2 separate regions of the Homo sapiens genome follow, and region 1 is linked to region 2. The links come from fine-mapping of genetic effects on gene expression. A gene starts in region 2. The other region holds a variant in brackets. All regions are shown on one strand. Distances are between the middles of the regions.

Region 1 (13,196 bases), 60 kb before region 2:
GATAAGAACACCCTCATATTGGATTAGGACCCACTTCGAAGGCCTCATTTTAGCTTCATCACCTCTGTAAAGGGCCTGTCTCCAAACACAGTCAGATTCTCAGGTATGAAGGTTATAGGACTTCAACATATGAACTTTGTGGGGACAATTTCCTCTCTCCTGCCCGCTCGCAGTGACTTGGAATACTCTTGAGGGTGTCTCCATCTATTTTGTATTATATTTCATTATCTGGAAAAGCTTATTAATCTAAGCATTTTGTTCCTGCCTCAGGAGCTTGTCATATAAACAAACACCTAGACAACTAGCAATTAATACAATAAAGCAGGTAACGAGCTGCTGGTTTGATAATGTGGACTGTAGCTCTCTAGAAGCTCAAAGAAGGAGGACAAAGGTATAGTGGCTACATTGATCTGGGAGGGCCTTAGGAGCAGGAGGGGTTAACAGATGCTCACATAAGGCCTAATATTTAAATAGGGGTTCTAAACCTTAGCAGTACATTAGAATTATTTGGGGGATGTTTAAAACTACTGGGCCTTGGCTGGACGCGGTGGCTCACGCCTGTAATTCCAGCACTTTGGGAGGCCAAGGCAGGCGGATCACCTGAGGTCACGAGTTGGAGACCAGTCTGACCAACATGGGGAAACCCCGTCTCTACTGAAAAATACAAAATTTAGCCGGGTATGGTGGCACATGTCTGTAATCCCAGCTACTCAGGAGGCTGAGGCAGGAGAATTGCTTGAACCCGGGAGGCAGAGGTTGTGAAGAGCCGAGATTGCACCATTGCACTCTAGCCTGGGAAACAAGAGTGAAACTCTGTCTCAAAACAAACAAACAAACATAAACAACAAACTACTGGGCCCAGCTGGTGGCTCATGCCTGTAATCCCAGCACTTTGGGAGGCCGAGGCAGGCAGATCACCTGAGGTCAGGAGTTTGAGACCAGCCTGGCCAACCACTGCCAACATGGTGAAACTCCATCTCTACTAAAAATACAAAAATTAGCCGGGTGTGGTGGCAGGCACCCATAATCCCAGATACTCAGGAGGCTGAGGCAGGAGAATCACTTGAACCCGGGAGGCAGAGGTTGCAGTGAGCAGAGATCATACCACTATGCTCCAGCCTGGGCAACAGAGGGGAGACTCCCTCTCAAAAGCAAAAGACAAAAACAAAAACAAGAACAAACTACTGGGCCCCAGAGATTTCAGTTTAATTGGTCTGGATGAGTATTCTCCATTGATTAAGAAAAAAATACTCTCCAGGTAATTAGAATACACAACTAGGGGCCGGGTGCAGTGGCTCATGCCTGTAATCTCAGCACTTTGAGAGGCCAAGGTGGGAGGATCCTTAGGTCAGGAGTTTGAGACCAGCCTGGGCAACATAGCAAGACCCCCCCCCCACCCCACCCAATGCACATACCTGTTTCTATGTGGAAAAAAAAAAAAAAGAAAGAAAAAGAAAAAGAGTATATGGCCGGGTGCTGTGGCTCAAGCCTGTAATCCCAGCACTTTGGGAGGCCAAGGCAGGTGGATAACGAGGTCAGGAGATCGAGACCATCCTGGCTAACACAGTGAAACCCCGTCTCTACTAAAAATACAAAAAATTAGCCGGGTGTGGTGGCGGGCGCCTGTAGTCCCAGCTACTTGGGAGGCTGAGGCAGGAGAATGACGTGAACCTGGGAGGCGGAGCTTGCAGTGAGCCAAGATCGCGCTACTGCACTCCAGCCTGGGAGACAGAGCAAGACTCCGTCTAAAAAAAAAAAAAGAAAAGAAAAAGAATATACGACTAAGACTGAGAATCTCTGGCCTAAATGAACAGATGAGCTTAAGGAGGGCATTCATATTCCAGGTGAGCAGGAAGCTTCGAGGGGAGGCAGCAAGCAGGAATGCCGCGGATATTGAAAGAACATGGAGAAGGCAGACTTGCTGGGAGCTGAGGATGTTTTAAGGGTCGTGGAAAATAAGTTTACACAGATCAGAGTGAAATTACATGGGGTATATGGAATCTATATCAAACAAGAAAGGCAGGAGGAAGATAGAAGCAGGTTTGCAAGCCCAACTGGTTGGTTATTACAGACAGACAGATGTGAGGTCCTGAGGGTACTGGATGGAGATGCAGAAAGGATCATAGAGAACACTGGGAAGGGTCCCGGCGTTGTGGATCATGCTTGTAATCCCAGCACTTTGGGAAGCTGAGGCAGGAGGATCTGCTGGAGCTCAGGAGTTCAAGACCAGCCTGGGCAACATGGCAAGACCTTGTTTCTGCTAAAAATAAAAATAAATTAGCCAGGCGTGGTGGTGTATTCCCGTAGTCCCAGCTATTCAGGAGGCTGAGGTGGGAAGATAGCTTGAGCCTCGGAAATTGAGGCTGCAATGAGTCATAATCATGCCACTGCACTCTAGCCTGGGAGACAAAAAAATAATTTTAATTTTTTTTTTTTTGAGATGGAGTTCCACTCTTGTTGCCCAGGCTAGAGTGCAATGGTGCAATCTCGGCTCACTGCAACCTCTGCCTCCCAGGTTCAAGCAATTCTCCTGCCTCAGCCTTCCGAGTAGCTGGGATTACAGGCACCCGCTGCCACACATGGCTAATTTTTGTATTTTTAGTAGAAATGGGGTTTCACCATGATGGCCAGGCTGGTCTCAAACTCCTGACCTCAGGTGATCCACCCGCCTTGGCCTCCCAAAGTGCTGGAATTACAAGCGTGAGCCATGGCACCCAGCCGGATACTGAATCTTGAGCCCAGTGTCATCAGGACAGAAGGCAGAATCTCTCTAGTAGCTAAGTCCTGGGATAGTGTCTTTTGCGTCTCCAAAGTTTTCCCAGTCTCCGTTCTCTCTGTGGAGCTTACACACTTTGCGCCAATTTCCTGAGGCACCTCACATCCTTCCAGTACATGCTTTCATTAACTAGAGTTAGTTTCTGTTGTTTGCAACCAAAACTGCTTAACTGATTGACCATACTTCTTCCCATTATTCGAGTTTTGGGGGAGCATTATTTTGCATTCAAAATCCAGAAGTGAGCAAATCATACCCTGGGATCTTTGTCTCTCCTTTCTTAAGACTCATTCGGGCCTAGCGCGGTGGTTTATGCCTATAATCTCAGCACTTTGGGAGGCGAAACCCCGTTTCTACTAAAAATACGAAAATTAGCCGGGCGTGGTGGCGGGTGCCTGTAATCTCAGCTACCAGGGAGGCTGAGATGGGAGACTTGCTTGAACCTGGGAGGCGGAGATTGCAGTGAGCCAAGATTGTGCCATTTCACCCCAGCCTGGGCTACGAGAGCAAGACTCCATCCCCCCTTCCCCCCTGCTGGCCAGAAAAAAAGATTGATTTGGACATTCTCATTTTGATTTCAAAAAAGACAAGTCTGTGGCCACCAAGGGTGATGAGAGGTGGCCATATGATGTCCTTTTCACTCCTCATACCTATAAACTCATTGAGAGGTACCAGTGACCTTTCTGCACGGACTGTCTTTTAAATTGTCTGTTTACAATGCTGTATCCATTTATACTCCATTTATTTCCCCATGAGGACCTGAGAGTGGCCAGGCATCGTGGCTCATGCCTGTAATCCCAGCACTTTGGGAGGCTGAGACGGGAGGTTCACTTGAGTCTAGGGGTTCCAAACCATCCTGGGTAACAAAAAAAATGAAAGTAAAATCAGCCAGGCATGGTGGTGTGTGCCTATAGTCCCAGCTACATCTGAGGCTGAGTTGGGAAGATCGCTTGAGGGCAGCCATTGGAGGCTGCAGTGAGCTATCATCATGCCACTGAACTCCAGCCTGGGCAATAGAGCATGACCCAGTCTCCAAAAAAAAAAAAGTATTTGAGAGTATTCCTTCCTCTCCATTCCTTCTTTCCTATGTCCCTACCTGGCGCTTTTTTTTTTTTTTTTTTTTTTGAGACAGAGTCTCGCTCTGTTGCCCAGGCTGGAGTGAAATGGCATGATCTCGGCTCACTGCAACCTGTGCCTCCTGAGTTCAAATGATTCTCCCGCGTCAGCCTCCCGAGTAATTGGGATTACAGGTGCCCAGTACCACGCCTGGCTAATTTTTGTATTTTTAGTAGAGACGGGGGTTTCGCCATGTTGGTCAGGCTGGTCTCGAACTCCTGACCTCAATTGATCCTCCCGCCTCGGCCTCCCAAAGTGCTGGGATTACAGGCTTGAGCCACTGCGTCCAGCTCCTGGTGTCCTCTTTCTTTTTTTAGACGGAGTTTCACTCTGTCGCCAGGCTGGAGTGCAGTGGCCCGATCTCGGCTCACTGCAACCTCCGACTCCCTGTTTCAAGTGATTCTCCTACCTCAGGGTCCCAGGTAGCTGGGATTACAGGCATGTGCCACCACGCCCAGCTAATTTTTGTATTTTTAGTAGAGACGAGGTTTCACCATGTTGGCCAGGATGGTCTTGATCTCCTGACCTCATGATCCACCTGCCTCGGCCTCCCAAAGTGCTGGGATTACAGGCATGAGCCACCGTGCCCGGCCTCCTGGTGTCCTCTTTCTTTGGTGACTTTTTTTTTTTTTGTAAAGAACTAAGAACTCCAATGCTCTCAGCATTACCAATACATGCAAAGGAGGCTATGCTTCTTTTGTAAGTGAGAGAAACTCAGTCTGGCTTTGGAAGCTTGAGCTTTCATTGACCTGAGATATATGCCTTTCACAAGGTGGAAAACAAATGTTCCTAAAAGCAATAACATTACTTGACATTTTTGTAGCATTTTTTGTCTTCAAAGCAATTTGTAGACATTAAAGAATAAGCTGTCAGCCCTTCCCAGATAAGAATCATTGCCTAAGTGCTTAGTACAACCCTGTCCTGTTCCTCAGACCTAAACAGTGGGCCCTGCTTATAAACTGTGGCTGAACAAAATGACTTCTTAGGAGGAGAAAACAGAGGGAGGGTGGGGGAATGAACTCAGTTGGAAGGAAGAAAAGAAGACGACCTGCAATTTATCTAGTACATATTGTGAGTCTGGGGTGACAGTTTGGAGAACACTAGGGCTTCAGCCTGGCTCTGTGCCTGTTGCCCAGGCTGGAGTGCAGTGGCACAATCTCGGCTCACTGCAACCTCCACCCCCCAAATTCAAGCAATTCTCCTGCCTCAGCCACCTGAGTAGCTGGGATTACAGGCACGTGCCAAAATGCCTGGCTAATTTTTTTGTGTTTTTAGTAGAGGCAGAGTTTCACCATGTTGGCCAGGCTAGTCTCAAACTCCTGACCTCAGGTGATCCACCCACCTTGGCCTCCAAAAGTGCTGGGATTATAGGTGTGAACCACCGCGCCAGGACTCTTCCTTTCTTTCCTTTTTATCTATTTTTTTTTTTTGCGCGGGGAGGGGAGGCGGTGCAGTGGTGAGATCATAGCTCACTGCAGCCTTGAACTCCTGGGCTCAAGCGATCCTCCTGCCTCAGCCTCCTATGTCGTTAGGACTACAGGCATGCACCAGCATGTCTGGCTAATTTGTCTTTAAAAAAAAAAAACAACTTTTTTTAGAGACAGGGTCTTACTATGTTGCCAGTATCATTTTATTTTGGTTTTCTTTGATTAAAAAAAAAAAAAAGACGCACCTGAATGCATTCTCTCTTTAGGTCATTCATGCCAGACTTTTTGCCTAACCGTATAACTTTTAGCTATTTCTTCACTACATTTTTGTTACGATGTCTTAGATTTCTGTTCCTCAATCTTTTTGTTTGTTTGTTTTTGAGATGGAATCTTGCTGTTTCAGGCTGAAGTGCAGTGGCACAATCTTGGCTCACTGCAACCTCTGCCTCCCAGGTTCAAGTGATTCTCCTGCCTCAGCCTCCCAAATCGTGGGGATTACAGGTGCGCACCACCACACCTGGCTAATTTTTTGTAGTTTTGGTAGAGACGGGGTTTCACCATGTCGGCCAGGCTGGTCTTGAACTCCTAACCTCAAGCAATCTACCTAACACGGCCTCCGAAAGTGCTGGGATTACAGGCATGAGCCACCATGCACGGCCTAGTCCTCAAGCATCTTTCTTTTTTTTTCTTTTTTGGAGACAGAATCTCACTCCGCTGCCAGGCTGGAGTGCAGTGGCGTGATCTCAGCTCACTACAACCTCTGCCTCCCGGGTTCAAGCAATTCGCCTGCCTCAGCCTCCCGAGTAGCTGGGACTACAGGAATGCACCACCGTGCCCGGCTAATTTTTTGTATTTTAGTAGAGACAGGGTTTCACCATGTTGGCCAGGATGGTCTCGATCTCCTGACCTTGTGATCTGCCCGCCTCGGCCTCCCAAAGTGCTGGGATTACAGGCGTGAGCCACCGTGCTCAGCTGTATCTTTCTAAGGTGTATACATACCTGCACTGTGTGTGAGTGGTAAGTTTACCGTGATTTATTCTTTCCTTAGCATGAGCCAAGGACAACATGTGAATAAAACAATGTTTAGATCCTGCTACAGGGAAGGTTTTGGGAAAGTCAACATCTTTGGGGAGCAGTTTCGTCATCTGTCAAAAAAGAAAAGAAGGGACTGGGCGTGGTGGCTCACACCTGCAATCCCAGCACTTTGGGAGGCTGAGGTGGATGGATCACCTGAAGTCAGGAGTTTGAGACCAGCCATGGTCAACATGGCGAAACCCCGTCTCTACTAAATATATATATATATTTTTTTCTTGACTCTGTTAAAAAGAACGTGCCTTTCATATACTGTACAGAAGTCTGCCAAGCAGAATGATTGACAATAGCTACCATTTGTCTGTGGTCTGTGACGTGCAGTGCACTACGCTACAGGTTTATGAGTTATCTCACTTAACGGACTCCAGAAAACTCTTCTTACCCTTTGCAGGTAACAAACTTAGTCAAAAAAACTGTCACATAAGGTTTCTGCTTGTTTTTTAACGATCCTCAATCATCAAAAAGAGAAATGGTTGAGATGAGAAAACCTTACGAACTCAGAAAATGCAAATCAAATGAGACTCTTGAAAACAAAACTGGCAAAGCGTGCTGTCTCCAGGAGGCCCATGCGACATGACACCACCTGCAGGACAAAGCACATATTTACCCCAACCCTTCAAAGGCAACTGCAGCAGCGTCTTCTCTTCAGAAGGAAGGACTGCAGGGACACGCTGAGGAAGCACACAGGTTTCCATTTTCTGAATTCAAGCACAAGCCTGAGGTACCTCAAAGAAAGAACAAATGCCAGTAAAATAAAAGGACGATTCAAAACTTAAGAGCTGGGCGCGGTGGCTCACGCCTGTAATCCCAGCACTTTGGGAGGCCGAGGCGGGCGGATCTCTTGAGGCCAGGAGTTTGAGATCAGCCTGACTAACATAGTGAAACCCCATCTCTACTAAAAACACAAAAATTAGCTGGATGTGGTGATGCATACCTGTAATCTCAGCTACTCAGGAGGCTGAGGCAGGAGAATTGCTTGAACCCAAGAGGCAGAGGTTGCAGTGAGCTCAGATCGTGCCACTGTATTCCAGCCTGGGAGATAGAGTGAGACTCTGTCTTAAAACAGAAGTAATTTTTAGGCAGGCATAAATTATACTGGGCTTTAGGAGAATATTTCCTGCATAGTATCCTATATTTCCTGATATTAACATCAGGAAAATCAACTAAAATTAAATACACTAAGTAAACAATGCACAAAAATCACATTTTAGAAAGTGACCTGGGAGTTGAAGTCCAGTTTCCCCAGGAAAATGTGCGCAAAAGTGTAATGAGAATTGTACAGTTTATGAACTCTCTGCCAAATTTTGCTTGGGTCTTTTTATTTTATATAGTCTGAATATAGTTTTCTTTTTTGTGGGGGATGGAGGCTCGCTCCGTCACCCAGGCTGGAGTGCAGTGGTGCAATCTCAGCTCACTGCAACCTCCGCCTCCCAGGTTCAAGTCATTCTTCTGCCTCAGCCTCCCAAGTAGCTGGGACTACAGGCGCCCACCACCACACCCAGCTAATTTTTGCATTTTTAGTAGAGATGGCATTTCACCATATTGGTCAGACTGGTCTTGAATTCCTGATCTTAGATGATCTGCCGGTCTCGGGCTCCCAAAGTGCTGGGATTACAGGCATGAGCCACCACATCCAGCCTAGTCTGAATGTTTTCAATTGGTATCAAATATATTTACTTTTTTTTTGGCTTGGTAAAATGCCATCTTGACAAAGCCAGCTTCCAGAGCTAAACTTAAAATCAACCCTTGATACTAAATCCATCATAGGTGGATAGGCACCTGTAAGCAGTTTAAAAAAACAAAAGTATTTCTGAAGTACCTGTACATTAAACAGTTGAGGCCAGGGGCGGCGGCTCACACCTGTAATCCCAGCACTTTGGGAGGTCGAGGCAAGCAGATAACCTGAGGTGAGCAGTTCAAGACAAGCCCCATCAACATGGAGAAACCTCATCTCTACTTAAAATAAAAAATTAGCTGGGCATGGTGCCACATGCCTGTAATCCCAGCTACTCAGGAGGCTGAGGCAGGAGAATCGCTTGAACCCAGGAGACAGAGGTAGCGGTGAGCCAAGATGGCACTATTGCACTCCAGCCTCGGCAACAAGAACAAAACTCCATCTCAAAAACAAACAAAAAAACAACTGGCCCCACAAATGGCAATTGAGGCCAGACACAGTGGCTCACACCTGTAATCCTAGCAGTTTGGAAGGCTGACGCAGGAGGATTGCTTAAGGCCAGGAGTTTGAGATCAGTATGGGCAACACAGGGAAACCCCATCTCTACTACTTAAAAAAAAGAAAAAAAGGGCATCTGATGTACTGAATACAAAGATCAAGTACTGAGGACGAAGATTACCACCGGATACCACGTCGGGCAGGTACCCTGGGAAATTGTGATGTCTGTATCCTTCAAATTGCTTGGTGATGTCAACTAATACAGAAAGAGCTCTTAGTAGAATGTCTGGCACATCATAAAGCCTCGGTAAATTAGGCACAATTGATATCATCACTTAAAAATGGTGGCCTTTTAAAAACGCCACATGGCAAAACCCCATCTCTACAAAAAAATACAAAAATCAGCTGGGCGTGGTGGTGTGCACCTGTAGTCCCAGTTACTCAGGAGGCTGAGGCAGGACTGCCTGAGTCCAGGAGATTGAGGCTGCAGTGAGCTGTGATTGTGCCACTGCACCCCAGACTGGGCAACAGAACAAGACTGTCCCTAAACAAAACAGGGCGGGCGTGGTGGCTCACACCTATAATCCCAGCACTTTGGGAGGCCAAGGTGGGCAAATCACTTGAGGATCAGGAGTTCCAGACCAGCCTGGCCAACACGGTGAGACCCTACCTCTACTAAAAATATAAAACTCAGCTGGGTGTGGTGGCATGCACCTGTAATCCCAGCTACTTGGGAGCCTGAGGCAGGAGAATCGCTTGAACCAGGAGGTGGAGGTTGCAGTGAGCCGAGATCGCACCAGTGCACTCCAGCATGGGCGACACAGCGAGACTGTCTCAAAAAATTAAAATTAAAATAAATAAATAAAATAATGACTCGGTAGAAAAGCAACGTATTTCATAGAAAGCATTTTATTATCAGAACAGTATGGTTTTCCTATGTTTAAGATCTATTTATTATGTTATTTTTACAAGTAGCAAAGTCCCTCCGTTTTTTTCCCCAGGTGAATGTACATGAATATAAAAAG[T/C]GGCTGATGTCCACACTGCTCGGCCCACCCGCATCAGGGTCGGCAGGAAGTTGCGGCTGATGAGCAGCTCCCGGAGCGGTGGGGCGGGGCCTCCTCTTCTCCAGTTCCAGTACGCTCATCAGTCGTCCTCCTGCTGATTTCTCTTCTGTCAAAGAAAACCAAGGGGATGTTAAAATAGCACATGCTCCTTGGGATATCTGCTCAGCAGGTGTAATTTTCTAGAGGTCTTGGCAAAGGATGTAATTAAAAATTGTCATGGAAAACCATGCTTTAATTCATTAAACTAGTTTATCACTTTGACTCCTGAGCAAATTATCCTCAGGTATTTGAGTATTTTCTTCTCTTTCTTCCATACATACAAAAACTCCTACACAGAAATCCACACAAAAATATAAATATTCACATCCCCTCTTGAGTAAAATCACCACCAGAGCAGAGACCTGCTCTCCTTACAGCCTTCTAACAATATACACACTTTCTTCAAAGTTACAAGTATTTTGAAAAATGTTCAAAAGGCATGTACAGCATAAAAACATTTTCTGTCATTCTAATCAATAAATTATGCCTTCAGCTCCTATTTCATATTTAATTAGAAAATGCTCTAACTCAGTAACTTGGTTCCATTCATAACCATCAAAGTCTAGGTGATACAGGATTCCAATGAAATATTATATAAAAGCCAATTTGAAGGTCTATTTGAAAAGATGGCCAGCATACTAAATGCACATAGACTTTACCAGCTTAAGGAAGTCTATTAGCTTGTGAGCGTCCTCCCCAGTAGAGAGGTCTACAAAGTCCTTGGGTAGCCGGTAACTCAAATAGGGGCTGGGCTGGACTGTCACTTCACTGTTTGTGCAACGGAAAGCTGGGGAATCCTGTACAAAGAAGAAAAAGGAGAAAGAATATCAATCATTTATTTTTAGGCCTATTCTGTGAACTAAAAAAGAACCTAGCAAAACAATTTCAACTCCATGTTTTCCTCTGTACTTGATGAGGAGAAAGGAAGATGCTTAAGTTAAAATGAGCCGGGCACGGTGGCTCACGTCTGTAATTCCAGCTGGAGTGCAGTGGCTCACTGCAGCCTCGACCTCCTGGGCTCAGGTGAACCTCGCACTTCAGCCTCCCAAGTAGCTGGGACTATAGGCATGCGCCACCACGCCCAGCTGAGTTTTTTAAATTTTAGTACAGAAAATATCTCAGTATGTTGCCCAGGCTGGTCTTGAACTCCTGAGCTGAAGCAATCCTCCTGCCTTGGCCTCCCAAAGTGTTAAGATTATAGGCTAGGTGGGCTGTTGCACCCATGCCAAACTATTTTTTTTTTTTTTTTTGAGGCAAAGTCTCGCTCTGTTCTCAGACTGGAGTGCAGGGGCACGATCTCTGTTGCCCAGGTCTCTGTTGCTCACTGCAACCTCTGCCTCCCAGGTTCAAGTGATTCTCCCACCTCAGCTTCCCAAGTAGCTGGGACTACAGGCGCGCGTCACCACGTCCGGCTAATTTTTGTATTTTTAGTAGAGATAGGGATTTCACTATGTTGGCCAGGCTGGTCTCAAACTCCTGACCTCAGGTGATCTGCCTGCCTCGGCCTCCCAAAGTGCTGGGATTACAGGCATGAACCACCATGCCCAGCTGCCAAAACTAATTTTTTTTTTTTAGACGAAGTTTTACTCTTGTTGCCCAGGCTGGATGCAATGGAGCAATCTCAGCTCATCGCAACCTCCACCTCCCAGGTTCAAGCGATTCTCCTGCCTCAGCCTCCCGAGTGGCTGGGATTACAGGCATGCACCACCATGCCTGGCTAATTTTTTTACTTTTAGTAGAGACGGGGTTTCTCCACGTTGATCAGGATGGTCTCGAACTCCCAACCTCAGGTGATCCACCTGCCTCAGCCTCCCAAAGTACTGGGATTACAGGTGTGAGCCACCGCACCTGGCCTGTTTTTTTTTTGAGACGGAGTCCCGCTCTGTCACCCAGGCTGGAGTGCAATGGCGTGATCTTGGCTCACTGCTGCAACATCCGCCTTCCAGGTTCAAGCAATTCTCCTGCCTCAGCCTCCCAAGTAGCTGGGATTACAGGCATCTGCCACCATGCCCAGCTAATTTTTTGTATTTTTAGTAGAGACGGGGTTTCACCATGTTGGCCAGGCTGGTCTCGAACTCCTGACCTCAGGTGATCCACCAGCCTCGGCCTCCCAAAGTGCTGGGATTACAGGTGTGAGCCACTACGTCTGGCCCAAAACTATTTTTTAAAAGATATAAAATGCTCACAAGAGAACACTGTGAAAATCTCAGGACATGTAATTGAGTATGTAGTATGATTTCATTTATTTACAAAGGTCTATGCATGTGTTTAAATGCACGTTATGTATCAAAATATAAACACTGGTTCTCAAGGTTCTCAAATCATAAGTGATTTTATAATTTTCTTTAAGAATGAGCACGTTACTTTTTTTTTTTTGAGACAGTCTTGCCCTGTCGCCCAGGCTGGAGTGCAGTGGCACAATCTCGGCTCACTGCAAGCTCTGCCTCCCGGATTCATGCCATTCTCCTGCCGCAGCCTCCCAAGTAGCTGGGACTACAGGCGCCCGCCACCACGCCCGGCTAATTTTTTTTTTGTATTTTTAGTAGAGACAGGTTTTCACCGTGTTAGCCAGGATGGTCTCGATACCCTGACTTCCTGATCCGCCCGTCTTGGACATGTTACTTTTATGGGCAGAAAACAGCACTACAAAGTTGTTTCAGGAAAGTCTGGCTGTGAAGCTGGCAGGAAAGGAGAGAGTGGCTGGGTGAAGAAACCGGGTTGAACAATGTTTTGTTTTTTTCGGATGGGAGGTATCTGAGCATGACTAAATCCGGATGGACAGAGTTGATAGAGAGGAAGAATTGCAAAAAGAGCAGAGGGCATCTGGAGAAAGAGGAGGAGGACACAGTGTCCTGAGGGGGAGGTAAGAGAGGAGGACACAGTGTCCTGAGGGGGAGGTGAGAGAGGGGGACACGGTGTCCTGAGGGGGAGGTGAGAGAGGAGGACACAGTGTCCGGAGTGGGAGGTGAGAGAGGAGGACACAGTGTCCAGAGTGGGAGGTGCGAGAAGAGGACAGTGTCCTTAGGGGGAGGTGAGAGAGGAGGACACAGTGTCCTGAGGGGGAGGTGAGAGAGGAGGACACAGTGTCCGGAGTGGGAGGTGAGAGAGGAGGACAGTGTCCTGAGGGGGAGGTGAGAGAGAGGAGGACACAGTGTCCAGAGTGGGAGGTGAGAGAGGAGGACAGTGTCCTGAGGGGGAGGTGAGAGAGGGGGACACGGTGCCCTGAGGGGGAGGTGAGAGAGAGGAGGACACAGTGTCTGGAGTGGGAGGTGAGAGAGGAGGACAGTGTCCTGAGGGGGAGGTGAGAGAGAGGAGGACACAGTGTCCGGAGTGGGCGGTGAGAGAGGAGGACACAGTGTCCAGAGTGGGAGGTGAGAGAGGAGGACAGTGTCCTGAGGGGGAGGTGAGAGAGAGGAGGACACAGTGTCCTGAGGGGGAGGTGAGAGAGGAAGACACAGTGTACTGAGGGGGGAGGTGACAGAGGAGGACACAGTGTCCAGAGTGGGGAGATG
Region 2 (11,772 bases):
AGTTAATGAGGCGCTACATTAATAATTTTCAGGTTATTGAGGCTCTGTGAATACCAAAAACAGAAATATAATCCAGAAAACCACACTAAAAACCCAACAGGCAAAAATATGGGGTCCAGTTAGTAGTACTGAAAACACACAATTCTTACTGTATTTCTATAGTTCCTTCATCCAACAAATGTTTATCAAGCACTTCTGCTATATCAGGCACTGTTCCATGAGCTGGGGTGAACAAATGGGCCAAGTCCCTGTTTTCATGAAACTGCATTCTAATGGAACAATTAACAATTGTCAGGTGGAAGTAAGTGTTATGCAGAAAAATGAAGGGAGGTCAGGGCATAGGGTTACTGTCAGGCTATTTTAGAAAGGCTGGTGAGGGCTGAACACTCATAACGTGACTTCTGAGCAGACTCGAATTAAAAAATGAGAACTTCACTAAATCCTATGATTCTTCAACGTTTTCAAGTTTGCATCCAAAAGACTGAAACACAGTAACTTCTTCCCTTTATTCTATAAATAGGGAAACTACCTGAACAGCTTCTAGAAAGTGGAGGGGGGGCCACGGTAGTTCAATCGTGGGGAAGAAAATGTTGAGGAATTAGATGATAAAGCCTGTTTGCAACAGTGAATTTTTAATCGTCAAAACTGAAGGATCTCAAAGAATTTTAATATGTACTTCCCCCACCCTGCTACCGTCAGAAGGAAAAGTTGTCATCATAACTGTTTTCTAAAGACAGAGATGAAAGGAACTGCTCAATTTCACAACTTGTAATTATTAGAGGGAAAAGTACTTAATGTTGAAAATATTAAGTGAACATTGAGAAGGAATATGAGACAAAGATCAGCACATCATTTTGGCTAGGAGAGAAAAAGAGCTAAAGGGAAAGAATGGTGCCTAAGCTAATTCATTCATTTTATGTGTTTCTTTATGATAAAGTTTAAGAAATTTTTTTCTAAAATACTTTACCTTCCTGAAACCACCAGAGTTCCATCATCGAGTAAATAATCCTTCACATTCTGAGGAAGTGGAAGAATGACACTAAAAAAAAAACACCAAAAAAGGCATCATTTTAAAAGACCAACTATAAGCAGAGAGAAAAATCTCTACACTTGATTAATTTTGGAATTGTCTTTCTTTTAATATAAAGTAGAAAATGTTAATGATGTACATTTGGTAGCAGTAGACAAGAAATCAGAATAATAAGATTACTGCGGTTCATCTTATTGCCACAATGGTCTTTGTAGTAAACAAAAACCAGCCAAATCCAAACCACCAGATGGAAATCACAGTATGAAAGCAACAAGCTCAAAAGGATTCTGAGTGAGCACAACATTTATGTGTCTTTAAGAAATCAGAGACCAGCAGATATTTGCTGCAACACAGGAAATGCAGCAAACCCAACTAGAAGATGACTAGCATTTGGTCACCTTCTAAAGATAGAGGGCAGAAGTAGAGTCAAGATCTGGAAACCATTCTTGGGTTGGCAGTGAGCACCTACCGCTAAGAATTCATGATACTTTTGGATGTGTCTTGCTGGCTTTCTATTCAACTGATCACCAGAGATATAAAGCTGCTTAAACTAGGCATGCTTTAGCTTAATTTGTTTCAGGTAATCATAATTAAGGATGGCAAAGCCATACCTGAAGTCTCTTAAAAACTTATGGGATAATTTGTTTTTTACCTTGAAATAATAAATTATCAAAAAGCCCTACCACAGATCCCTAAGAGTGCTGGTATTATTTTGATTTTGAGGCATATACATCTTCAAAAAGTGGAAAAGATTACAGCCTGCTTTCCCGAAGTTAACAGAACATCAATGACTTATAACATGTCTCATTTATTTATGGAAGAAGTTTTTTTTGGCACATTACAAATGGTTTTTTTGCACAAAAAAGAGTATTCATGGGCTACTTCGGTTTTAAAAATAAGTATTTTTATTTATTTTTAAATAAATAAAAGATCACTGCCACTGCACTCCAGCTTGGGCGACAGAGCAAAAACTTCGGTTTTAAAAATAAATATTTGATTTATCAAAGGTACAATTTCACATTCAAAAATCTAGTTCTGGCCGGGCGCGGTGGCTCACACCTGTAATCCCAGCACTTTGGGAGGCCGAGGCGGGCGGATCACGAGGTCAGGCAATCGAGACCATCCTGGCTAACACGGTGAAAACCCCGCCTCTACTAAAAATACAAAAAATTAGCCGGGGGTGGTGGCGGGCGCCTGTAGTCCCAGCTACTCAGGAAGCTGAGGCAGGAGAATGGCGTGAACTCGGGAAGGGAAGCTTGCAGTGAGCCAAGATCGCTGCCACTGCACTCCAGCTTGGGCGACAGAACAAAACTCTGTCTCAAAAAAAAAAAATCTAGTTCTTCAGGCTTTTAATTTCTTCTAACAAATCTTATTACGTTTGAAAATCTACTAAATTTTAAACAATTTCAAGCGAAACTTTGCAACTTAAAAGTCTCTTTAAAATTTTAAATTCTATTCATAAACCACTCAATTTTCTTTCTTAATATGTCTATTTGCTGATTACAAATAAGCCTTCCTAAGTATTTTACTCTTACAAAGCTAACAAGCGAAATTGTTAAGTACAATGAATCTAAGGTTCTACCACACATTCCAATACTATTTAAGAACTTGAAACTTTTCTTATACATTTTAACCATTCTAAGCCAGTTACACATTTTCAAGTACATATCCGATCTTTATTGAATGAAACCATCATATAATGAATCAGCAATTACTGAAATGTTGGCTCAGAAAATCAGTTAAGTGCAAAGCCCAGATTTTCTATCAACGCCTTTAAAAAAACTGAGAGATGAAATTGTATATATTAATACTTGCCGCCTACCTGATGTTTTTAAGTATATATACACTGTGGAATAAATTTAGCTAACAAATGCATTGCCTAACATAGTTATTTTTGTGGTGAGAACACTAACATCCACTCTCCGTTTTTCAAGAATACGTATATCGTCATTAACTATAGCCTCCATGCTGTACGACATATCTGTGAACTTGTTCTCGTATCTAACTGTAATTACGTATCCTTTCACCTTCCCAATCTCCATCCTCTGGGGTGATGGCGAAAAGCAATTAATTCTCCGAGTGCACTTAGGCAGTGATCACCTTGCGCCTGGGGCCATTCTAAAAGTAGTGGTGGTGAACTCCCAAGCCTAAACTAGGTTAATCCACTATTCCTCCCGCCTCCGACCCTCACTGAAAACCACAACTGACCCTCCTAGCCAGCACACTCGCTGGCTCGCAACAGGACGCAGACAATTGCTGATGTACTTCCCTCTCGACACACTCCCTCCCATGCAGTCGCTAGAAGGCCTGCATTTTTTTGGATAGCAGTAAGATTCGCTCAGAAGTCGCAGTTCCCTTTTGCCGGTCGACCGGGCGAACCCCCTCCCATCTCACCTCTTGATGGTAACGCCTCGGAAGAACGGGTACCACGCGGAGAACTGGCAGTGAAGCACATGCTCCTTCTTCATCCTCCAGCTGCCGCCGCTGCTGCCTTTCCCTCTCCTGCCTGCACCCTCCCGGAACTCTGGGCGCCGGCCCCGGAAGTGCCCGCCGAGCTATTTTGGTTCAAGGACTCTTCCGGTCCCTAAAGCAAGAAGGAAGACCGAGAAAAGGAAGCGGAGGAGAATCCCGGGGCATACGCTTGACACACACGCATACAAAAAGAGCTTTAGTCTCGAAAGAGGAATTACCGAAGTGTCGAGAGAGGAATTTTAAGAAGTTTACAACTCCGTCTTCGCCCTAAACGCACGCTGACCCGGAAAGTAATCTCCTGAAGCTAGGTCAAAGGCGGGGGTTCTACGGATGCCGGAAGGAGGGTGCGCGCCCATCCTTTTAGCACCGCGAGAGGCGCCGGTGTTTCGAGCCGTGGCACCGGCATCGGCTGACACTGCTGCCTCCAGCTAGTTATTTCGTCCTCTTCCGTTCTTCACCCCTACACCTTGGAGTAAGTAACCGGGGCAAGCCAGTCACAGCACAAAACCTCTTTGGGGAGGAGAAGAAGAAGGGGAAAGGGACCACATCTGCATGGTGCGTGCAGCCGCGCGGTGTCTCCCAGGCTGCGGCTGGGCACGCGTCCAGGCGCCCAAGAGGGAAACTGGGGATTGGAGGGAAATTGTGGATTGGAGAGGAAGAGCCTGGGCTACTCCGAGTAAAGAAAGCGGGGAACACCACAGCTAAGTGTTAGTTCCAGTGTAAAGATTGCAGCATCTGCAGAGGAGTAGAATGCTTGGTAGAGGGAATACCGCCTGTACGATCCTGGAGGGTTCGACTTTGGGAGGTAAAAGGCGAGAGGTAAATGTGAGAAAGCAGAGGAAAGAGGAGTCTCCTTGGAGCGCTGAATTCGTTTAGTCTGGCCTCGCAAAAGTTGTCAACCTGGAAAAAACGCAGATTTTTATCAGTATTCCTGCGATGATCGAATCATAAGACTGGAAGAATTCGAATCGAACTTGTACTATCGTTTTTTCCTTTGCTTCACTCCTGTCACCCAGCAAAGTTCAGTTTTGTTTGTTTCGTTAAAAGAATGAGAAGTAACTAGCTGCTTTTATTTATTTATTTGAGACGGAGTCTCACTCTGTGCCCAGATTGGAGTGCAGTGGCGCAATCTTGGCTCACTGCAACCTCCGCCTCCTGGGTTTAAGTGATTCTCCTGCCTTAGCTTCTCGAGTAGCTGAGAGCGCGCGCGCGCCACTACGCCGGCTAATTTTTGTGTTTTTAGTAGAGACGGCGTTTCACCATATTTGCCAGGCTGGTCTCGAACTCCTAACCTTAGGTGATCTGCCCGCCTCAGCCTCCCAAAGTGCTGGGTTTACAAGGCGTGAGCCACGGCCCCGGGCCTACCAACCAGCCGCTTTTAACCCCTAGTCGTGTCGCTTACCACACGAGCTTTAGGCTTGCGCGAGGCATCTGCGTCTAAAAGTATCTCCTTAAATGTACATTCTTCCTGGTTCACCTAAGTAGTTTTAAATTAGAAACAGCCCCACCGACTGCAGGCCTCTTCAGAAGGGTGTTCCTTAGAATAATAAACAATTATCTGCGTATTTTGAGTTAGAAACTCTTCCCCCCAGGAATATATACATTGTTTTGGGTTGTGTTTTGTTTTTCTCAAAAATGTTACTGGCTAAGTGGCTAGTTGGAAGCAGTGCTTTAAAGAATACATTTTCAAAGCAGAGGTAAATAGATTATAATGTTGCAGAGTATGTTGGTGGGGATGGACAGTCATGATTCATCATTTATGCCTTGATCCGGAACTATGCAGTCCTTTCTGATTTGAGGGAAAGAAGCAATATTGTATATATGTCTGGAGGGTGGTGCCAGAAAGACTTAATGGCAGACAGGAGCAGTCGCTCAAATAATTGTTTTGATTTGACTTAGAAAGTAAAAAATTGCGCGGAAGGAGATGTTAGCATCGATGGGGGATTTATTTAGGTCAGATGTTTTCTAATGAAGATAGGAATGAATGTACGGAAGAGAATAGATCCCGGGAACATAGCCCTTCTGCGAGGAGCAGTACTTTAACAGCCCAAGAAACATTTGAGCATAGGCCGGGCGCGGTGCCTCATGCCTGTGATCCCAGCACTCTGGGAGGCCGAGGCGGGCGCATCACCTGAGGTCAGGAGTTTGACCAGCCTGTCCAACATGGCGAAACCCCGTCCCTACTAAAATATCAAAAATTAGCCGGGCGTGTTGGCGCATGCCTGTAGTCCCAGCTACTCGGGAGGCTGAGGCAGGAGAATCGCTTGAATCCGGGAGGCGGAGGTTGCGATGAGCCGAGATCGCGCCACTGCACTCCAGCCTGGCAACAGAGCGAGACTCTTTTTTTTCCGTCTCGGGAAAAAAAAAAAAAAGAGTGTAGAGATTAAGGCAGTTGCAAAGCTTTAATATAGAATTGCAGTTGTGTGTAGAAAAGCAGCTAAGTTTGTAAGCTTAAATATATAGATACTACAGGGAAGGAATTTTTATAGATACCTTTTATTCAGGCAGTATACTTTAGAAGTGTGTTCAATGACTTTTTGGTATTACAGTTGGTTTTAAGTAACTTGTTACACATTTAACCAGCATCAAATAAATTGACATTATACATAGGAGATGCTCAAATACTTTGAATGGATACAGCTAAATGAGGGTTCACTGTATTTTAACCACCGTGGTTGTCTTCACTAAGCCATGAAGTCATTGTATTCATCAAGTTTCTCCAATAAAACCTTTCAACAGTGGAAATATTTGCTTTTTCTCCTGCATGCTGAAAAGTCAGTAGTCATGTGATTATGGGGGAGGAGATTTATTGTGCAATTCCTAATGAAGTAATGAAAAAACACATTTCTTTCTCTGAATCCATAGCATGACTAATCATCCTAGATTAAGATTTTCACCTGTCTGCTGGTTTTCTTCATCTGGATGTCTGCTATCACCTCAAACAAGCGTGTACAGATTTGAGCTCTGCATCACCCCTTTTTTCTTCCGATGTCCCAGTCTCCCTTAAAACTGTCTTCGTGGAAATTAAATGTCACTTTGCCACGGCTACCACTCTACTCCAGACCTGTCATCTCCTGCCTGGACTATCTTTACAGTGTCGTTACTATACGTCTGTAACCAATTCACCTTCCCAAGGGTCATTACAGTCAGTTCACTCTTGCTCAACCAGCATTAAATGTGAGGATTTTAAACCACCTGCTAAATGATTCCTGGAGATCACCAAGTAGCATAATTTCAGTAAACGTTAATTACTCCCTGCCCACCCAACTGCCACACCTGAAGAGAATGAAAAAAAAACCCATAAGTGAATTCAATTGTGGGTACCCAAATTTTTTACCATAAATGGCACAAAAGAAGGATACATCAGAATATTATCCTTTTTTTTTCTTTTGAGACAGAGTCTCGCTCTGTCGCCCAGGCTGGAATGCAGTGGTGCAATCTTGGCTCACTGCAACTGCTGCCTCCTAGGTTCAGGCTTTTCTCGTGCCTCAGTCTCCCAAGTAGCTGGGACTACTGGCGTGTGCCACCTCACCCAGCTAATTTTTTGTATTTTTAGCAGAGATGGGGGTTTCACTATGTTGGTTAGGCTCGAACTCCTGACCTCAAGTGATCCACCTGCCTTGGCCTCCGAAAGCGCTGGGATTACAGGCATGAGCCACCGAGCCCGGCCAGAATATTATCTTTTAAAAATAGAATTTAAAAATTTTTAACTATGACCAAAATTATTAAATATAACTGCAAATTATTTGATTCTTTGTTCCTTCTAAATCAAGTGACTTTTCTTTGTAATTATTCTGCCAGAATGTAGATTGCCACTTTAGACATGCCCAATTTGATGCCTGACTTTAACAAGACAATCATAAAGTAAGTTATTACTGCAAAAAAAATTGATCCTCTCTCCCACTTAATTTCTTTTCTTTTCTTTTCTTTTTTTTTTTGGAGACAGAGTCTCACTCTGTCACCATGCTGGAGTGTAGTGGCATGATCTCGGCTCACTGCAACCTCCACCTCCCTCGTTCAAGCGATTCTCCTGCCTCAGCTCCCCACTTAATTTCTTTCAAAGTGCCTTGTTGATTTCCCTATTCAATTATTAAACTGTTCCAAGTGCCTGACCCTCTTTTGTCAGTCAGAGGCTCTACTTATGATGTGGGCTCCTGCATCTTGTATTTGGTTGAGTATTGTTGATATTAACAATATTCATCTTTTATCAGGAGAGACCTAGCCAACATACAATTTCTTGTTAGGATTTTTTGCTTCACTTTGCAGCCTCAGCAGATGGCCGGGATTCGGGTACGGTGATTGAGTAATGAGCCTCAGTGCCAACTGCAGAACCAGGCTTTTGAGTTCATAGTTTAACTTCTGGAATCTAAACTCCCACTTAACTCTTTATGCAGCTGTTGTTACTAATACTGGCATACTGAAGTTGGTGAAAAATTAATCACTTCCTCCCTTTCTGTAGAGGGCTGTACTTGCTGCCTAACCCCAAAATTAGTTTATTTTGGTGTTTGTTTTTTCATTTTTTACATAGGATCTCACTATGTTTCCTAGGGTCATCATGAATTCCTCAGCTCAAGCGATCCTCCCACCTCAGCCTCCACAAGTAGCCGGGACTATAGGCACATGCAGTGCATGGCACTGGCCCCCAAAACTACCTCATATCACAACAGTAATTTGTGCCATGCCAGTTAGCTTTGTGTGCTTTGTTGGCCTGCAGTTTTGGGGGCAGAGATCCAGCCAAATCTGTGTATGGCCTTAGAAATGTGTTCGCAAATCATCATTATATGTGGAGTTGTTTTGGGAGTTTTGTGGTGGTGGTTTTTCCTTTGTGGTTTTTTTTGTTTTGTTTTGTTTTTGTTTTTGAGACGGAGTCTTGCTCTGTCGCCTAGGCTGGAGTGCAGTGGCGCAATCTTGGCTCACTGCAAGCTCCACCTCCCGGGTTCATGCCATTCTCCTGCCTCAGCCTCCTGAGTAGCCCGGACTACAGCGCCCACCACCAAGCCTGGCTAATTTTTTTGTATTTTTAGTAGAGATGGGGTTTCACCATGTTAGCCAGGATGGTCTCGATCTCCTGACCTCGTGATCCACCCGCCTCGGCCTCCCCAAGTGCTGGGATTATAGGCATGAGCCACTGTGCCCGGCCTTTCCTTTGTTTTTTAAAGGAGAAAGTGGAGGAGGAGCTTGAGAACCACAGAGCTCGCCATACACTCAGAATTTCTCACCCTTGCCCCGGTGTCTCTGCCTTTGTTCATGTGGTGTCTTCTAGTTGGAATGCTTTCTCTGCACTCTTGGTCTCTAAACCATGTCTTCACATCAAACTATCTTTTAAAAATCTTGGCTGGGTGTGATGGCTCACCCCTGTAATCCCAGTGCTGTGGGAGGCCGAGGTGGGTGGATCACTTGAGGTCAGGAGTTCGAAACCAGCCTGGCCAATATGGTGAAACCCCGTCTCTACTAAAAATGCAAAAATCAGCCGGGTGTGGTGGTACAGGCCTGTAATCCCAGCTGTTCAGGAGGCTGAGGCAGGAGAATTGCTTCAACCTGGGAGGTGGAGGTTGCAGTGAGCCGAGATCATGCCATTGCACTCCAGCCTGGGTGTTGCAGCGAGATTCAGTCTCAAAAAAAAAAAAAAAAAAAAGGCTTTATCATTTTCCTCACTGCCTCCCAAGGGGATGTGTGTGTCCCTCCTTTAAAACATCCTGGTATGGTGGTGTCTCTGAGGCAGGTCTTTGCCCCAGATGTGCTTGCTAAACTGTAACGTGCTCAAGGGCAAGCATAGTGGTCAGTGTGCACTGAGTATATACACAGACGTTTCCACTGCTGGTGCTCTCGAAGCTAGTTAGAGACTGCTAGTTAGCCTGCCACTGTGCAAGACGTCTAAAAATCTTACAGCATTTCCCCTCACTAGTGTTTTTTTTATGCTCTGGAGAATTACACATCCAACACATCCTAGACCTTCAGTGTTCAAACTGAACTGAGTTAAAACGATTTATGAGAATTAAAACAGCTTGTGACTTTAAAGACTAAGGAAAATCATAAATGAAATTGTAGAACACTCGCTGGCGCGGTGACTCACGCCTGTAATTCCAGCACTTTGGCAGGCCGAGGCGGGTGGATCACGAGGTCAGGAGATCGAGACCATCCTAACACGGTGAAACCCCGTCTCTCCTAAAAATACAAAAAATTAATCAGGCATGGTGGCAGGTACCTGTAATCCCAGCTACTTGGGAGGCTGAGGCAGGAGAATGGCATGAACCCAGGAGGCGGAGCTTGCAGTGAGCGGAGATCGCGCCACTGCACTCCAGCCTGGGCGACAAGGCAAGACTCTGTCTCAAAAAAAAAAAAAAAAATTGTAGAACACTCAACATCGTGTACATGTATCTTTTTCATACCATACACATATTGGCAATATGCAAATTACCTTAAATTCTAACTAATGAAGTGGATAAAATTTATATCAAAGTTTGCTTTTAAATCTTGAAATAGCGTTGAGTCAGTGAAGGCAAACTCCGTTGCAGTGGCGGAGACGCTGGCTTACAAAGCACGGAATTTAAAGCTCATTTCTCGTTCTTTCTGCAGCGTGTTGCTGGCAGTGACTGGCCCCCGAATGGCACTATTTGGCTTCTGCTTTTGAAATGGTGCTAAAAACAACATTCCTTTTCTGTTTCTAAAAATTTCTGAGGTACTTTTACAGTCCTTCTGAAATGTTTGGGAATCTCATAGTTAAGAATATGCTCTTGAAATAGCTCATTTTTGTCATTCACGGAATCAGTGGATTGCTGCACGATACTGTTTCCCTTTGAGGCTGATTGCATTCCAAAGAAATACTCTCTTTTAGCGGCCAGGCACGGTGGTTCACGCCTGTAATCCCAGCACTTTGGGAGGCTGAGGCTGGTGGATCACCTGAGGTCAGGAGTTCGAGGCCAGCCTGCCCAACATGGCAAAACCCCATCTCTACTAAAAATGTAAAAATTAGCCGGGTGCAGTGGTAGGAGCCTGTAATCCCAGGTACTCGGGAGGCTGAGGCAGGAGAATCGCTTGAATCCGTGAGGCAGAGGTTGCAGTGAGCCGAGATCATGCCTTTGCACTCCAGCCGGGCAACAAGAGCGAAACTCCATCTCAAAAAAAAAAGTTTACCTAATAAATTATCATCTATGGTACTTTCAAAGGAATAAGTGCCTGTTTTCTTAGTAGGGCTGCAGGTTTCAATATGCTAATGTCTGTCTCTAAATATTTAAACTTCTACGTGGTTTACTTCCTTATTGCTTTCAGGTCTCCATTCAGAAGTCACCAAATTAAACAGGCCTTGCCTGATCACTCCGTGTAGATTACTCTTCCCATCTTCCCCACACTTCTCATCCTTTTTAATCTTTCTTCATGAAACGCTGAGTCACTTGACATAAATTTTGTGTTCTTCCTCACTGTTTTTCCTTTCTCCTCACTGGAAAATGAGGTCCGGGGGAGTGAGGGTCTTTGTCCCTCTCACCACCACTTTTTTTTTTTTTTTTTTTTTTTTAGATGGAGTCTTGCTCTGTCGCCAGGCTGCAGTGCAGTGGCACGATCTCAGCTCACTGCAACCTCCATCTCCTGGGTTCAAGCCATTCTCCTCCCTCAGCCTTCCCTGTAGTTGGGGCTACAGGCGCACCCCACCACGTCCAGCTAATTTTTGTATTTTTAGTAGAGACAGGGTTTCACCATGTTGGCCAGGATGGTCTCCATCTCTTGACCTCGTGATCCACCCGCCCTGGCCTCCCAAAGTGCTGGGATTGTAGGCGTGAGGCGTGAGCCACCGCACCCGGCCTCACCGCCACTTTCCTAAAACATCATCTCACCTTTCACAGGTTGGCCACAAGGGTTACCTATGATAGTCAATCAGATATTTGATTTGTAAACGCACTTTATGAATATTCATACAGTTGGTTTTGTTATTGATTGTATTTTAGAATAGGGAAGCTTGCTGTCTTGGGGACAAATTGAAGATCAGATGGGTAGTATGATCACTTTGGGTCCCAGAAGAAACAAAGAGCAGACTCACTTTTTCCTTTAGGACAGTTGGGAAGAGAGTTGATGCTGGGTGGGCTGTATTTTCTTTGAAGCCGAAGTTAGGTGGGGTAGGTTAGAGAACCGTGGAACGTAAGAGTGCAGTGGCGTGATCTCGGCTCTCTGCAACCCCCAACTCCTGGGTCCAAATGACCCTCCTGCCTCAGCTTCCTGAGTAGCTGGGACTACAGGTGCCCACCACCACACCCGGCTAATTTTTTTATTTTTTATTT

Which allele goes with the higher level. Alleles are on the strand shown, and positions count from the first base shown. SD is a standard deviation of normalised expression in the study named.
For the expression in skeletal muscle of the gene that starts at base 3,556 in region 2, T is the low allele of the variant in region 1 and C is the other (small effect, 0.17 SD a copy in GTEx).

Evidence for each region.
Region 1: its variant is fine-mapped to the expression of CDC123 in skeletal muscle (GTEx, PIP 0.95).

Annotation. Positions count from the first base shown.
Region 1 is chr10:12,246,866-12,260,061 of GRCh38, reverse strand. It overlaps CDC123 (cell division cycle 123), which reads right to left. Exons shown (of 13, transcript NM_006023.3): 12 at 10,344-10,481; 13 at 9,473-9,751. The coding sequence ends at 9,725. Among named protein-coding and RNA genes, the nearest start is that of CDC123, 57 kb to the right of the region's middle. The variant T/C (reference allele first, on the strand shown) is at 9,607.
Region 2 is chr10:12,187,972-12,199,743 of GRCh38, reverse strand. CDC123 (cell division cycle 123) reads right to left here and starts at 3,556. Exons shown (of 13, transcript NM_006023.3): 1 at 3,425-3,556; 2 at 968-1,039. The coding sequence starts at 3,498. It overlaps NUDT5 (nudix hydrolase 5), which reads left to right and starts at 3,853. Exons shown (of 10, transcript NM_014142.4): 1 at 3,853-3,974. RefSeq lists enhancers at 3,540-3,809, 8,816-9,666.